Regions from separate parts of the Homo sapiens genome. Here region 1 is linked to region 2. Evidence: fine-mapped expression QTL. A gene starts in region 2. The other region holds a variant in brackets. All regions are shown on one strand. Distances are between the middles of the regions.

The links. PIP is the estimated chance that this variant, and not a neighbour inherited with it, causes the effect.
Region 1: its variant is fine-mapped to the expression of ADAP1 in whole blood (INTERVAL, PIP above 0.99). The same link has a PIP of 0.9 or more in breast, subcutaneous fat, sun-exposed skin, tibial nerve and visceral fat.

Annotation. Positions count from the first base shown.
Region 1 is chr7:903,698-911,926 of GRCh38, forward strand. ADAP1 (ArfGAP with dual PH domains 1) reads right to left here. Exons shown (of 11, transcript NM_006869.4): 5 at 1,363-1,475; 6 at 429-575. Among named protein-coding and RNA genes, the nearest start is that of GET4, 31 kb to the left of the region's middle. RefSeq lists an enhancer at 4,005-4,703 and a silencer at 5,218-5,437. The variant C/T (reference allele first, on the strand shown) is at 3,902.
Region 2 is chr7:949,934-958,307 of GRCh38, forward strand. It overlaps ADAP1 (ArfGAP with dual PH domains 1), which reads right to left and starts at 4,747. Exons shown (of 11, transcript NM_006869.4): 1 at 4,463-4,747. The coding sequence starts at 4,544. It overlaps LOC124901569 (a long non-coding RNA gene), which reads left to right and starts at 4,921. Exons shown (of 2, transcript XR_007060178.1): 1 at 4,921-5,331; 2 at 5,435-5,557. RefSeq lists enhancers at 1-267, 3,197-3,808, 5,031-5,640 and silencers at 3,934-4,143, 4,434-4,923, 4,943-5,098, 4,954-5,053, 8,295-8,354.

The DNA of each region.
Region 1 (8,229 bases), 46 kb before region 2:
CTACCCAAACCACCCCAGAGCCGGCTACCGTCCACATCTCCTCCCCGTAGGACCCCAGTTCCCCCCGAGGTCCCCTCTGGGCATTGTGGGGGCGGTGGATCCTCTAGCCCGAGCTGGCAGCCCCCACTGACAGGGCCAAGCTGGGTGGCCCCAGAGACAGCGTGGTGATCCGGCTCCTGGGCAGCCCGGCCCTGGGAAGCTGCCTTCCTGCACCTGTCTTCCCATGCTGCCCGGCGCCAGTGCCCACACTCCCACACGTCCAAGCACCCGCCTTCCCACGCTGCCCAGCCCGACTTCCCGCCTTCTCATGCCGCCTAGCTCAAGTGCCTACCCTCCCGTACCGTCCAAGCACCCACCTTCCTGCGCCACCCGGGCCTGAGGGCCCACCCTCCTGTGCCACCCGGGCCCGAGTGCTCGCCAGCACCCACCTTCCCGTCCTCATGGTAGATGAAGATGTTACGGGTGCTGTTGTCCTTCAGGTAGGTGACCTGCAGGCCGTGGGGGTGGCCGATCTTGGCCGGCTGGAAGGTGGCGTTCAGGTGCTCGATCTTCATCACGGCCTTGGGCTCCTTGGCCTGAGAAGGGGTGGGGTCTAAGCACCTCACAGGGGCCGTCGTCCAAGCTCAAGGGAGCAGGAAGGGCAGACCCTGTGGGTGCTGGCGGCGCACCTGCTGTGCTGTGTGGCTTTGGGCAAGTTACTTAAGCGCTCTGAGCCTTGGCCTCCCGGTCTGTAAGCAGAAGGTAACAGCACCTCCCTCCCAGGAGTGATGGGGACCTCAACGACACTGTGCAGGTGGCACTTGACATCAGACACTGCACCTCCCTCCCCGGGGGCAGCCCCGGGCCCCACACGGCACGGCAGCTCCCACAGGGGCAGGCCCCAGCCACCAGCCCACCTCCAGCCAGTGCCCGCCACGGCTCAGGGCGGGTGCTTCTGACCATCAGCCCATGGGTCTGGGGCCACCTTGTGAAGACCCCACTGTTCTTGCCAATGTGTTTGTCCTGTCCCAGTCCAGTCTCCCCAGGGTACCTCCAGGAAAACTAGGGGCTTTCTGGGGTCCTGGCTGGCTCCAGAGGGGCCCAGTGACTAGGTTCTCCCTCTCCCACGGCTGGGCCTGAGTTCAGGGGGCCCCGCCCGGCCGCCCAGGCTCCTGGAAAGCCTCAGCTGCCCCACCCTGGGGGACGCTGGGTCCGGCACACAGAGGCTCAGCCCAACACAGGCCGGTTCTCCTGGAGCGTCCCCATCGGGGGGGGCAGCAGGGAGGGCAGCTGCGGATGGACGCGGCCACCACAGGCCCCAGTGTGGGAGGCCGGGATGCCGCCCTGGGACAGGCCCCCACCCCACCCCCGTCTGTGACTCACATCATTTCTGTTGAAATACTTCAGAGCACCCTCTCGTTCTGTCAGCACAAACTTCCGGCTCAAAAACTGCCCGTTGTCCCGGCCACGCTTCCAGAGAAAACCCTCACGGTACCCTGTGGGGGAAAGGGGACACGAGTCGGTGACAGTGGATGGGGGGGAGGAAACAAAAGGAGTGACGATGGACAGGACAGAGGGGACATGGGGAGAAGACACGGGGGACACGGACGGGGGACACGGACAGGGGGAGACGGACGGGGAGAGGGGACATGGAGGAGACAGGGAGATAGGAAGATGGGCAGGGAAAGGGAAAGGGAAAGGAGAAAGGAGAAAGGAGAAAGGAGAAAGGAGAAAGGGAGAAAGAGAAAGGAGAAAGGAGAAAGGGAGAAAGGGAGAAAGGGAAAGGAGAAAGGAGAAAGGGAAAGGAGAAAGGAGAAGGGAGAAGGGAGAAGGGAGAAGGGAGAAGGGAGAAGGGAGAAGGGAGAAGGGAGAAGGGAGAAAGGAGAAAGGAGAAAGGAGAAAGGAGAAAGGAGAAAGGAGAAAGGAGAAAGGAGAAAGGAGAAAGGGAAAGGAGAAAGGGAAAGGAGAAAGGGAAAGGAGAAAGGAGAAAGGAGAAAGGGAAAGGAGAAAGGAGAAAGGAGAAAGGAGAAAGGAGAAAGGAGAAAGGGAAAGGAGAAAGGGAAAGGAGAAGGGAGAAGGGAGAAGGGAGAAAGGAGAAAGGAGAAAGGAGAAAGGAGAAAGGAGAAAGGAGAAAGGAGAAGGGAGAAGGGAGAAGGGAGAAGGGAGAAGGGAGAAGGGAGAAGGGAGAAGGGAGAAGGGAGAAAGGAGAAAGGAGAAAGGAGAAAGGAGAAAGGGAAAGGAGAAAGGGAGAAAGGAGAAAGGGAGAAAGGAGAAAGGGAGAAAGGAGAAAGGGAGAAAGGAGAAAGGGAAAGGAGAAAGGAGAAAGGAGAAAGGAGAAAGGGAAAGGAGAAAGGAGAAAGGGAAAGGAGAAAGGAGAAAGGAGAAAGGGAGAAAGGAGAAAGGGAAAGGAGAAAGGGAGAAAGGAGAAAGGGAGAAAGGAGAAAGGGAGAAAGGAGAAAGGGAGAAAGGAGAAAGGGAAAGGAGAAAGGAGAAAGGAGAAAGGGAAAGGAGAAAGGAGAAAGGAGAAAGGAGAAAGGAGAAAGGGAAAGGAGAAAGGGAGAAAGGAGAAAGGGAGAAAGGAGAAAGGGAGAAAGGAGAAAGGGAGAAAGGAGAAAGGGAAAGGAGAAAGGAGAAAGGAGAAAGGAGAAAGGGAAAGGAGAAAGGAGAAAGGGAAAGGAGAAAGGGAGAAAGAGAAAGGAGAAAGGAGAAAGGAGAAAGGAGAAAGGGAAAGGAGAAAGGGAGAAAGGGAAAGGAGAAAGGAGAAAGGAGAAAGGAGAAAGGGAAAGGAGAAAGGAGAAAGGAGAAAGGAGAAAGGGAAAGGAGAAAGGGAGAAAGGAGAAAGGAGAAAGGGAAAGGAGAAAGGAGAAGGGAGAAAGGGAGAAAGGGAAAGGAGAAAGGGAAAGGAGAAAGGAGAAAGGAGAAGGGAGAAAGGGAGAAAGGGAAAGGAGAAAGGAGAAAGGAGAAAGGGAAAGGAGAAAGGGGGCGGGAAAGGGGACATGGACAGGGGACACGGGGGACATGGACATGGGGGACGGGACATCGGGGACGGGACATGGGGGACAGAGTACATAGGGGACATGGACAGGGGACATGGGGGACAGGGGACACGGGGGACGGGACAGGGGACATGGGGGGACATGGGTCAGATGGTGATGGTGGATGGTTGGTGAGGGGATATGACAGTGGACCAGCGCTGTTGGCTGCAACCCTGGCCCAAGCCAGCCTGAGGACGGCCTGGATGAGCGGGACTCCAGCTGTCCTTTACTGGCCCCCAGGGACCCTCCCCATCCTGAGTGGACATGGCCAGAGCCACCATGGGCAGAGGCAGGGCTGGGTCCAACCTCGTGCTGCCCGGGAGGACCAGGCTGGCCTCCTCCCTCCTCCCTCAGCCGTCCGCAGCTGCTGGGTCCAGGTGGTGCCATCCCCTCTTTTTTCAGGAAAGCTCATCTGAGGGGAGTCCAGCTCAAGCCCTCATCTCCGCCTGTGGCCTCACGCACACCACACACAGCCACAGAAAAGTAGCCCGGGCATCCCCCTGGGAGCCTAAGCACCTGGACACGCCACCTTCTATGGCAAAACACACCGTGCACGGGTGGTTAGGACGCTGCTGTGGCAGACGATCACAGGGGAGGGAGGCAGAGATATGAGGACAGGAGGGAAGGGGACGTGGCCGTGGAAACTGAGGCCAGAGGGGGCCCCAGAGCCCAGGAGCACCAGGGAGAGGCCAGAGGACCCGTCCTGAGCCCAGAACCAGCTCTGCCCACTCCGAGTCTCGGGCCCGTGGGATCGTCCTGGAGCTCTGCCAGAGCTGTGGGAGAACAAACACGTGTGGCTTCACGTCACTGAGCTGCGGTCAGTGACCCACGTGTGGCCACTCAGAGGGGCGTTCCCATCCCCCCCAGGCCCCGCTCCCACTTCTGCT[C/T]CCTGTCCGTGGTTCCTATCGTTGCCCGTCCTTTCTCCTGCTCTGGAACTCTGTGTCCTGCGGACTCAGATGCAGCTTCTTCTATGGCCCTGGCTGTCCCGCCCCAACAGCATGTGGCTTGCAGCATCCGTGTCCTGGGCTCCGTCTGCCAGGCCTTGGGTCGCGTGCAGGTCCCGCCGTTGGCAGCAGCTGCGTGGCCAGGGTCGAGCAGGTCCTCAGTGGGTGCAGACTCTCCTGGGATCACGGGGCCGTCTGCCAAGCATCCCCAGTGGGCGCCGCCTCTCCGGAGGTCGCGGGGCCGTCTGCCGAGGAGCCGTCTGCCGAGCATCCGTGGCCCCTCCAGGGGTCGCGGGGCCGTCTGCCCAGTGTCCGTGGGCCCTTCCCGGGGTCGTGGGGCCGTCTGCTGAGCATCCGTGGGCCTGTCCGTGACCCCTCAGTGACTTCAGAGAGCACTTGCTTGGGGACAGCATCCCATCCTGCTGGCCATGTGGCCTGGGAGCCCCGGTCATCTGAGGGCAGGGGCTGCTGACCTACGCCACAGGGACGCGAGGGGGCTGTGGGCTCCAGGCGGGGCTAAACAGCCCCCTGCAGCAGCCAACAGGCCAGACAGAGGCTCAGATTGCAGACACCGCCCATCAGCCCTGACCACCAAAGCCCCCTGCTCCCCAGCATCCCCTCCCCAGCTCAGACAGCCCCATCCCGACACCAGAGACCAGGGGCTATTTTCTCTGCTGAGATGCAAGCCATAAAACGCCTGGCGTTGGGGAGGGGACAGCTGGTGCCCTCGGGGAGGGGGCCCTGGGCTGTCTTGGATGGTGCCAGACGGGGCCTGCTCCCCTCACTGCCCGGAGCTCCCCGCTCCCCAAGCCTCTACAAGGCTGCTGCCCCAGCCCCGTGCGCACAGCAGCAGCCAGGAGCCCCCTTCCCATGGAAGAACCCCCTTCTCCTGCTTCTCACTGTGAGAGCGAGGCCACCAGTGTCCCTCAGACCCAAGTAAGGCCTGCTCAGAACGCCTGTTGACTCAGTGAGCCCCTGCCCAGGCACAGCTGGGTGTCCCCACGGCTCTGCCTCCGACATCAGGACCTCTTTGGACGCGGCGCTTCGTGGCTGAGGGTGGACGCCGAGAAGTGCCCGGGGAGGCATCGCAGCAGCGGGCCCAGCGGCGCTTCCCGGCCTCTGCCGCTCACGGCCTTGTGTGCACCCCGGGGAGCCTCCAAGGCGTGCGTGTCCGTGTCACCAATGCAGACGACAAGTTTGGGCCACCTCGCCCACGGGGGTGGAGCTGGCTGGGTCCAGTGTGTCGGTTCCACAGACCCCTGCCCAGGACACAGCGGGGGCCCCTTCCAGCGACCGGGCTCCCTAGGCCACAGGGTGGGGACGCGCCCCTGCCATGCCCGCCGCGCCCAGCAGGTGACAGCAGTGCTCCGGAAGCGCGCAGGCCGCGGGGTCTGGGAGGCCACTGCCCCTCTGCACGCGCGCAGCTGCTCCGGTGTTCTCGGGGTCCAGACGCCAGCGGGAACCCCGGTCCTCCCGACAGCAGGCGCCAGCGGGAACCCCGGTCCTCCCGACAGCAGGCGCCAGCGGGAACCCCGGACCTCCCGACAGCAGGCGCCAGCGGGAACCCCGGTCCTCCCGACAGCAGGCGCCAGCGGGAACCCCGGACCTCCCGACAGCAGGCGCCAGCGGGAACCCCGGTCCTCCCGACAGCAGGCGCCAGCGGGAACCCCGGTCCTCCCGACAGCAGGCGCCAGCGGGAACCCCGGTCCTCCCGACAGCAGGCGCCAGCGGGAACCCCGGTCCTCCCGACAGCAGGCGCCAGCGGGAACCCCGGTCCTCCCGACAGCAGGCGCCAGGACGCCGCATTCCAGGGGCAATGACGACGCAGGAGTGTATTTCAGGACGGCGCTGGCCACGGTCCCGGACGCGCCCCACGCCCAGTCCAGACCTCAGGCTGAGCCTCTGCTCTCCCCATGCCTGGCCAGCCCCTTGGCCTCGCTGGGGAGGGCCAGGACCTCAGGGGCCTGCAGCCCCCAGTCGGCACCAGCAACAGCCAGTGAGACGGGGCTTCTCCCCACAGAGCAGCCCCTCACACGGCAGCGTCCTGGACAGCCGGGTGGGCTGTGGCCAGAAATGGCCATTTTCTCTTAAAGGACTCGTGAGTCCTGGGGCAGGACTCGACCAGTATTTATCAAACAGCTACCGCGTGCCGCGCCCTGCTGTGAGCTGGTCCCGCTGTGTGTCGGGTCCTATGGTGTGGGGTGGGGGGGGTTCTACTGCACACCAGGCCCTACTGTGTGCCGGTCCCACTGTGTGCCAGGTCTTGTCCCACCTGTGGGGAGCTGGGTCCAGTCCACACCCCATGCCCTGCTCAGACGCCTCTGAGGAGCCCTTCTGCCCACCGCACGGCTAAGAGCAGGAAAGACGTTCAGCATCGCCATGACCCACGAGAACGGCAAAACCAAACCAGTGTGCACACACAGGCGCCCGACTGTGGGCGGGGACGCCGGCCCTTCCACGCTGCCCGTGGGGATGTAAGGTGCCCCAGTCCCTGGAAAGCAGCCAGGCCGTTTCTTCCACCACAGTGAAGCGCGCACATCACGTGCCTCAGAGAGAAGTGAAATCCGAGGAAACAGGAACAGCCTTCACATAAAGCCCACACCCGTTTACGAGGCTTTTTTTTTTTTTTCCCCACCCAGGCTGGAGTGCAGGGGCACTATCACAGCTCACTGCAGCCTTGACCTTCCGGGCTCAAGTGATCCTCCAGCCTTGGCCTCCCGAGTAGCTGGGACCACAGATGCACGCCACCACACCCGGCTAAGTTCTGTATTTTTTTGTAGAGATGGGAGCTCACTGCGTTGCCCAGGCTGGTCTCGAACTTCTGAGCTCAGGTGACCCTCCTGCCTCTCCTCCCACCATACTGGGGTTGCAGCGTGAGCCCCACGCCTGGCCCGAGACTGCTGGGTCTTGGATTTGTCAGAGCTGGGACTGCACTCTAAATAGGATATGCAAAGTAGATGTAAATCACACCTCACGTATGTGATTTATATGCTAATTGTCTTGTAAACTGGGGCAGGGAAGCACGTGGCCCTGCTCTGAGTGACAGCTCACAGGGTGGTGGACCCTCTGGGGTGGGAACTGCATCCCCATATCTCATGGGGCCTCTGGCCTTCCACAGGGAGGGGTGCACCATGGATGGGTGGCCTCTGAGAACGGGGCCGAGGCCCTGATCACTGCACCCCGGCCGTCCCTGTGAAGGGCCTGGACCTGGCTTCCGGCCTTTGGGTCCTAGTGGCTCCTGCCCTCCCTCAGGAGGCAAACACCGGAGCCCACGGCAGAGCAGTGTCTCCTTGCTGGGTAAGGCCTTAGAGTTGAAGGCCTCCTCTGTGAGCCCGCACAGGGCTCCGTCTCTCCCTGCCTGGCCCGTCCACCCACGCTCTCCGACCCATTAATGCACCTTCTCCAGGTTGGTGCGTCTGGGGCCGGCAGAGGCTGAGAACCAGCGGGCCGTATCCTGCGGAGGGCTCCAGGTCCCAGCTTCGCCCTGCGTGGAGCTCTCTCTCCAAACAGCCAGGACAGGGAGGCTTCCCTGTTCCCAGGGGTGAGGCCAGAGGGTGGACGAGGGCTCCTGGGGTCAGCTCTCACCCTGTTCCTATTCTCATATAGCCCCCAGCATGGGGCCCGGCCCCCGACAGGCCTGGAGAGACCCCCCCACTCACACACGGGTTCACAGTTTCCACAGCGCCTTCCTGCCCAGAGTGACGTGTGGATGCCCCCATCCCCGCCAGGCTGCCCAGGCTGCAGGAGGGGCCACCCTCAGGGCCAAGTCAGCCCCAGGGTACCCCCCTCCCCAAGCCCCAAACCCTGAGGCCCCCACACAGGGGCCCCAGCGCCCAAGAACAGCGAACCCTGACTCCTGTAAGACAAACATGCCAGGAAAGGGGCGGGGATCACACGGAGGGCCAGGAAGGGGGCGGGGGTCCCACGGAGGGCCAGGAAGGGGGCGGGGGTCCCACGGAGGGCCAGGAAGGGGGCGGGGGTCCCACGGAGGGCCAGGAAGGGGGCGGGGGTCCCACGGAGGGCCAGGAAGGGGGCGGGGGTCCCACGGAGGGCCAGGAAGGGGGCGGGGGTCCCACGGAGGGCCAGGAAGGGGGCGGGGGTCCCACGGAGGGCCAGGAAGGGGGCGGGGGTCCCACGGAGGGCCAGGAAGGGGGCGGGGGACCCACGGAGGGCCAGGAGCCGACACCCACCCAGAGAGGGGCAATGGGGCAGCCCTACCACCTCTGGCCAGGCCCCAAACACCCGTCCCCCCGAGGGGCAGCCCCACAGCT
Region 2 (8,374 bases):
CCAGTCCTGGGTACAGACCCAAACAACCTGAAGCAGGGTCTCAGAGAGACATCTGCACCCTCGTGCTCACACAGCACGATTCACAATGGCCCAGAGGTGGGAGCAGCCCAGTGTCCGCCTGCAGACAAACGGGCACACGCAATGTGGTTCATCCACACAGGGTATGATCCTGTCTTCACATGCAGGGAAATCCCAGCACTCGCCACAGCATCTGTGAACCTGGAGACGTTAGACTGAGTGAAACTGGCCAGTCACAAAAGAATGAATACCAGCCGGGCATGGTGGCTCACACCTGTAATCCCAGCACTTCGGGAGGCCGAGGCAGGCGGATCACAAGGTCAGGAGATCGAGACCGTCCTGGCTAACGTGGTGAAACCCCATCTCTACTAAAAATACAGAAAACTTAGCCGGGCATGGCAGCGTGCACCTGTAGTCCCAGCTACTCGGGAGGCTGAGGCAGGAGAATGGCATGAGCCTGGGAGGCGGAGCTTGCAGTGAGCTGAGAAGGTGCCACTGCACTCCAGCCTGGGCGACAGAATGAGACTCTGCCTCAAAAAAAAAAAAAAAAAAAAATGAATACCGCATGGTTTCACTTCTACAAGGTCCCTGGAGTCATAAGATTCATAGAGACAGAAAGTTGAGGCCAGGCACGGTGGCTCATGCCTGTAATCCCAGCCATTTGGGAGGCCAAGTTGGGAGGATGACCTGAGGTCAGGAGTTCAAGACCAGCCTGGCCAACATGGCGAAACCCTGTCTCTACCAAAAATACAAAAATTAGCCGGGCGTGGTGGCAGGCGCCTGTAATCCCAGCTACTCAGGGGACTGAGGCAGGAGAATCGTTTGAACCCAGGAGGCAGAGGTTGCAGTGAGCTGAAATGGCGCCACTGCATTCCAGCCTTGGGAACAGAGCAAGACTCCGTCTCAAAAAAAAAAAAAAAAAAAAAACAAGAAAAGAACAGAAAGTAGAAGGGTGGGTGCCCCGGACTGGGGAGAGGAAATCTGGAGCCCTTGTTGAATGGGGACAGAGCTTCAGTTTGGGAAGATGAGGAGGTTCTGGAGATGATGGTGGTGGCGGTGGCACGGTGAGTGAACGTGCTCAAGGCCCTGGAACTGTGCACTCGAAACGATGAGAAGGTAAATTATTATTTTTAAAAAATCCGGCCAGGCGCGGTGGCTCATGCCTGGAATCCCAGCACTTTGGGAGGCCGAGGCGGGTGGATCACGAGGTCAGGAGACGGAGACCATCCTGGCTAACATGGTGAAACCCCATCTCTACTAAAAATACAAAAATTAGCCGGGCGTGGTGGCGGGTGCCTGTAGTCCCAGCTACTCGGGAGGCTGAGGCAGGAGAATGGTGTGAACCTGGGAGGGGGAGCTTGCAGTGAGCCGAGATCGCACCACTGCAGTCCAGCCTGGGCGACAGAGCGAGACTCCGTCTCAAAAAAAAAAAAAAATATCCAACCTAGTTGGGCCGCTGCCCTGGGGAGTGAAGGGAGTCTGCCCAGCCCCCGCCCACACTCAGCAGCCTTCTTCCCACCCTCACCCATGCCGGCCAAATTCCTGAAACTGGGAGTTGGAGGTTGCAGTGAGCAAAGATCGTGCCACTGCACTGTAGCCTGGGTGACATCGAGAGACTGTCTTAAAAAAAAAAATTAGCTGGGCATGGTGGCATGGACCTGTAGTCCCAGCTACTCAGGAGGCTGAGGTGGGAGGATTGCTTGAGCCCTGGAGGCAGAGGCTGCAGTGAGTTGAGATTGTGCCACTGCACTCCAGCCTGGGTGACAGAGCGAGACCTTAAAATAAAAAAGAACAAAAGAGCTCAGACACCCCAGTCCTTCCGGGGCATCAGATGGCCTGAGACTCAAAGAGGACAATATGTGTGTTTTTCTTTTTTTTGAGACAGGGTCTCACTCTGGCCTAGGCTGGAGTGTGATCACGACTCACTGCAGCTTCCAACTCCTGGCCTCAAGCGATCCTCCGGCCTCGGCCTCCCAAAGCACTGGGATGACAGGCGTGAGCCACCGCGCCCGGTCCCTGTCCTCTGTTGCGATTTGGCAGGCAGCTCCAAGGATGTACGGAGGCACCCCTCCCTCCCCCAAACCCCCTCCCAGGATGGAGACCCCCACCCAGGTCTTGCAGGACAGTGGGTCCAGGCACGCCCCAACTCGCCCACCTGCCAGGCCTGTGATGAGAGGCTCTCTGGGTGGCCGCCGGGCGAGGCCCCCTGTTCAAGGTCAGGGGAACCCACTATTGGGACAGGTCATGGGGAGAGTTTGGAAGGAGCTTCTGTGGGGGCCGCAGAGACCCCAAGACTGCTTCCCTCACACGGCCAGTGGGTGGGGCCTGCTCAAGTCCACCCCAGCAGCCCCAGGCCTGGCGTTCAGAGGTGGTCTGGGACTGTCTGATGTCCTGCTGTCCAGGTCTGCACCAGCCGTGAGCCAGTGCACAGGACAGTGTTCTGAGGACAGCAGAACGTGCCGGCCACCCCAGCCCCCATCAACACTGGAGTGGCTCCTTGTCACCCAGCTGGGCCACAGCAGGTACAGGAGGCCCCAGAGCAGCTGGCATCAGCAAAGAAGCATAGAGCCCTCGAGGATGTGCCATGGGGTCATGGGGGGCTAGGCAGCCCCCTGCCTCCTGACACCGCCTGTTCCACCCTGTGGCCACAGCCCTGGGGAGCGGGGACAAGCAGAGCGGCCGGGTGTGGCTCATGTCCCCTAAGACAGCTCCCTTTGCAAGGCATCAGTCTCCCTGGCTGTGAAATGAGAGTGACCCCTCACAGCATCCCCCCTCCATGGCGCTACCCGACAGAGGAGACAAGTCACTGAGGTCATGGACAGATTCTGAAAAGGCAGAGGTGCGGCCCTCTACCCGGCAGCGTGGGGCATAGGGACGGCAGAGAACAGCTCTGGGGTGGGCCAGGCTGGAAGCTTAGCAGGTGGGCCGGGCACACCTGCACCCACTGGGAGGGGAGGACCACTGAAGGACCCAGCAGGCCAAGGAAGTCCCCTCTTCCTCCTGCCAGGCTGGGAGGCCCAGAGGGTGGCTGGAGAGGGGCCCTGAGTCCAGAGAAGCTGCTCCCAGGCTGTGTGGCCAGGGAGCAGAGGTTCAGAGGCAAGCCCAGCTCCCCTCCCCGTGGGCCACAGCAACCCCAGGCCAGGCCCTTTCCCACTGGCTTTCCTGGGGAGCGTTCCTGAACAGGAGGAAATAAAGGTCTGTGGGGAGAGAGTCTGGGGTGAGCCAGCCCAGGGGGCCACCCCCACCGCACCATTGCACGGGCCCTGTGGCCGTCCTGTCTCAGGAGACCATGGAAAGGCCGTGGGTCCTGCCTGTCTTTCCAGAAAAGCCTGTCGCTATCTCCCCTCTGGGACACCCCAGCTCCTGATGTGGCCTTTCCAGCCAAGCTGCAGCTGGACAGCAGCCACCACGACCTGGGGCTGGCAGAGACCCCTCCATCCCAGAGGGAATCAGGGACACCCCTTTTTCCGGGGTGTCCAGAGGCTGCATATTGAACCAGGGCCTTGGAGGCAAATGCAAGGTCTTCCCCCGCTCCCTCCCTGGGGGCCTCAGTCACCGCCGGTGAGTTTAGGTTTGTTCCGAGGGGCTTAGACTATTGGCCCCCAGATTCCTGGTGTGCCTGGGGTGGCGGGACTGCTCCGGCGGGGCCCTCTCTCCACAGCGCAGCCGGCCTGGGGCTGACAGCTCCCGAGCAGGGCAGGGCTGGTCTGGGCACTGGGCCCCGTTCACAGCCAATGACAGGACCAGTGGCCTGGAAGGGAGGGACTCCGCGCCTTTGGACTCCAGTGCCTTGAAATCCCACAGACCTGGGAACCGAGTCAGGGATGCCCGGCCGGGAGAACGAACGGGCGGGCGGCGGGTGGACCAGGACCTGCGTCCGGCCCCACCTCTCCCAGGCCTCACCTGTCCTGGCGCCCGCCCCGGAGCAGCCAGGTGCAGGGAGCCGGGGGCAGGGGCGCCGCTCACACCCAGGGACCCCCGGTGCGGGAAGGGCGTGAGGCATGACGTCACCGCGAGGTGGCCCCGGAGCCGGCGGACCCCACAGCCCAGCAGAGACCTCCGGCTGGCGGCCCGTTCCCTCCCTGCAGCCAGCCCCGATTTCCTCTTTCTGTGCGGAGCCCGAGCTTTCGCAACGCGGCGGGCGGTCCGCGGTGACCGTCAGACACGCAGCCCGGCGGGGGAGGGGAGGCGGCGGCAGGGGGGTTTCCGGGGGTCCTGGGGGGGGCCCCCCCGCTGCGCCCGGCCCGGGAAGACGTCCGGGTCCCCGCAGGTGCAGCCGGGCCCGGGCCCCATCCGAGCGCCGATCCGGCCCGGTGTTCAGCGCCGCCACCCCCGCGGCGTCCGCGCTCCCCCGCCCGGTCCCCGGGGCCCACCCAGGACCCGCCCGGCACCCCGCGCCCACCCCGGACCCACCCGGCCCCGCGCCCACCCGGCCCACACCTACCCGGGGCGCCGCAGTCCGCGCAGCGCGCGTTCCCCGGCCGCTGCAGCAGCTCCAGGACCGCCCTGCGCCGCTCCTTGGCCATGGCCGCGATGCGCCCGCGATGCCGATGCCGGGGCCGGGGCCGGGAGCGTCAGCCCGGCTCGCTAGGGCCCCGCGCAGGCCGCCCGCCGCCGCCGCCCCTGCGCCATCCCGGGCGGCCTCAGCCCGCGCGCCGGTTCCGCATTCCCGCCGCCCTCTGGGCTCCGCCGCCGCCGCTCGTGTCTCCGCCGCGGTCGCTGAGCGAGTGCCGGCGCGGGGCCCGGGGCGCACGCTGCGCTCTGGCCGGCAAGGCCCGCGGGCGGCCCCCAGCGGTGCAGGCGAGCGTGTGGCCTCCTCCCTCGGCCGCTCCGGCGCCCCCAGCCCGCGCGCCCCGGGGACCCGCTGGGAAATCGCCCGCCGCCCGCCCCCCATCCGCGCGCAGCGTCCCACCTGCCTGGGCGCGAGGCCGCCCCAAAACCTGGCCGGCCTGGGTGGGACCCTCGTGCCGCCGCGCGCGGTGGGACGGAGCCTGCACACCTACTGTGGGGGGCGCAGAGGGCACCTGCCGAGCCCCCCAAGACCATGGGCATGGGGGTGCTCGTGGAAGGCAGGTGTGCGTGTCCTGTGCTACGGACCAGGACCAGGGCGCTCACACCATCCCTGCCTGGGAGGGACGGCCAGCAGGTGACAAACGCCAGCGTCCCAGGGCACTGAGGCCACACAGGGCCCAGACGGAGCCTCCCCCTGAGACCCACCCAGCCGCCCACCACCCACAGATGGGACCCTCTGGGCACCCCTCCCACTCAGGCAGGCTGAGGGGCCCCGCCGGGACTTCACATGGGGGCTGACAGGTAACAAAAAACCTGGTTTTGATGTCACCTCTTCCCAGACTCGCGTGCCCTTCCTCTGCACACCCCAGCATCTTTTCAAATTCTTTCCATTTTCTTCTTGCAGGGTTAATGCAGTACACCCGGCTGAAAACAAACTGGAACATACCAGACTGAAAAAGGAAAGCCTCTCCCCACTGCCTTCCAGGCAACCACTGTTAACAAATTCCTCAGCACCTTCCAGAACGAACGTCTGAGGCCTGTAGCCTTTCATTTATTTATTCATTTATCGAGACAGGGTTTTGGCTAACGGCTGTAATCCCAGCACTTTGGGAGACCCTGGCGGGTGGATCACTTGAGCTCAGGAGTTTGAGACCAGCCTGGGCAACATGGTGAAACCCCGTCTCTACTAAATACAAAGAAATTAGCCAGGCGTGGTGGCGCATGCCTGCAATCCCAGCTACTTGGGAGGCTGAGGCAGGAGAATCGCATGAACCTGGCAGGCAGAGGTTGCAGCGAGCCGAGATTGCGCCATTGCACTCCAGCCTGGGCAACAAGAGTGAAACTCCGTTTCAAAAAAAAAAAAAAAAAAAAAAAACCAAACAAACAAACTCAAAAAAAGTTCAACTGAACCATGACTTGTTCACCCAGTCACTGGCATAGGGGCATTTAGAGCGTTTTGAATGCATCAGAATCATGGTCTACACAACCTCATCTTTGCAAGAGTTTTGTGTGGATTTGCTCTCAAAGTGGCATCGCTGGGGCAATGGTATGGGATGTGGAATGGCCTCCACTGAGGCTGCACTGACCAGAGTGCCACCAAAGGCACCTGTCCCCCTGCTCCAGCTGACGTGGAATCATGGAGCTGCTTAAGCTCTGTCTACCTGAAGCAGAACGCGGCAGCCCGTTTTGGTCTGTGTCTCTGGGATCTGTGCCCTGTGGCATCACGTGCTCTTTCCCTGTAACCGTTCACATGGGTCTTTCTCCTCCCTCAGACGGGAGGCTTTGGGGTGGGGACAGGTGGCATTTTCATCTCTGGGTCCCTGTGCCAGGCTCGGAATCCACCACACAGCATGAGCTTGGAGAATGTCGCCTAATAAAGACAGACGAACATTAATAGCAGCAGCTCAGCACTAGGTATTAGGAGAAATAGCCTGACTTGTATTTTCTATTTTCTTTTCTTTTCTTTTCTTTTTTTCCTTTTTTTTTTTTTTTTTTTGAGACAGGGTTTTGGTCTATCGCCCAGGCTGGAGTGCAGTGGCACGATCTTAGCTCACTGCAACCTCTGCTTCCTGGGGTCAGGTGATTCTCCTGCCTCAGCCTCCTGAGTAGCTGGGACCACAAATGGGTGCCACCATGCCCAGGTATATTTTTATTTTTTGGTAGAGACAGGGTTTCACCATGTTGCCCAGGCTGGTCTCGAACACCTGACTTCACGTGATCTGCCTGCCTTAGCCTCTGAAAGTGCTGGGATTACAGGCCTGAGCCACCACGCCTGGCTTGACGTGTATTTTCTTTTTTCTTTTTTTTTTTTTTGAGACAGAGTCTTGCTCTGTCACCCAGGCTGGAGTGCAGTGGTGCGATCTCGGCTCACTGCAAGCTCCGCCTCCCGGGTTCACACCATTCTCCTGCCTCAGCCTCCCCAGCAGCTGGGACACAGGTGCATGCCACCACGCCCGGCTAATTTTTTTGTATTTTTAGTAGAGACGGGGTTTCACCGTGTTAGCCAGGATGCTCTCGATCTCCTGACCTCGTGATCCGCCTGCCTAGGCCTCCCAAAGTGCTGGTATTATGGGCGTGAGCCACCGCGACCGGCCGACATGTATTTTCTTATTAAAGCCCCATTTTCAGCTGGGAAGACTGAGGCACGGGGAGGTTCGATCCCTTGCTGGAGGCCACACACCTCAGGACTGGAATATACATAAAACAATATAACAAAGCAACACACCCTAACATAGCCGTTACCCAAGGTCCCCAAAGACGGGGAGGCCATCATACAAGGCATAGAAAAGGCAGCAGGGAGGCCTCAGGGGAGCCGGTGCCCAACAGGCCAGAGCTTCTGGCACAAGCCAAGGCCATCTACTGCCTGCTGTTCCGGGGCCTCCTCCGTGGGGCAGCTCCAGCAGGCGAGTGTCTTGCCTTCTCTGTCCTTCCATCCCGCTAAGGGAACTGTGGCATTGCTCGGGGGGCAGGAGGGCGTGAGGATGAGACAGAGGTGGGTGAACCCCTCAGATCTAAGAGATGTCGGGGCTGAGGGGGATTCTTCCAAAGAGGAGGCTGCTCGGCCGAGATCCGCAAGTACCTGCCTGGACCCGAGAGCACAGCCGTCCTGAAATCCTGCTGCCCTGACTGGCTGTGGTCAGGGCTGGGCGGGGCAGTAGGGGAGCCCAGGACTCAGGAAGAATCCGGAAGGTAACAGCATAGCTCAGGGTGGGCCAGACCCAGACCAGTGCTGGTCAAAGGCTGTTCCGGCCAGCAGCGGCTGGCGAGGGGCCTGGACAGGCGGCGTGCCTGCTCCTGCTCATGCCCAGTGGCCTACAAGCTCTGCTGAGCCTCCTGCCCCTTGTCACTGACCCGCACGGCTGCACCAGGGACCCTGACACTCATTCCTCAAGCATCTCCCTAGTCCAGAGCCAGAGGCAGCCGCCTCCTGTGACCACTCGGCCACACAGCAGACCCTGGGCAGGGGGCTCCCGAGAGCAGGGCGAGCTCCTCCAGCGTCGCCTGAGCACGGGGCCTGCGCGTGGTAGGCCAGCAGGCGACTTTGATTGGAAGCTGGCTCCTCCCAGGCCTGCAGCTGCGGGGTGAGCCTCTCAGCACAGGCAGAAGGGGGCTCTCCCCAGGGAAGGGGCAAATGGACTGAGGCCGGGCTGGGCCCTGCTCTGCGACCATCTTGCCCAACAGTCAGCCGAGCTTGCTCAACCAGGAGCTGCCTCAGGGGAGGGGAGGTTGTGGAGGTTCACTTCCCTCTCCACCCCGCACAGGGGCCGGGGCTAATTCAGTCAAATTATCTGCGCTTGGACAGCGTCTGGCACGATGGCCGTGAGCTCAGTAGGCCGCCCTGCAG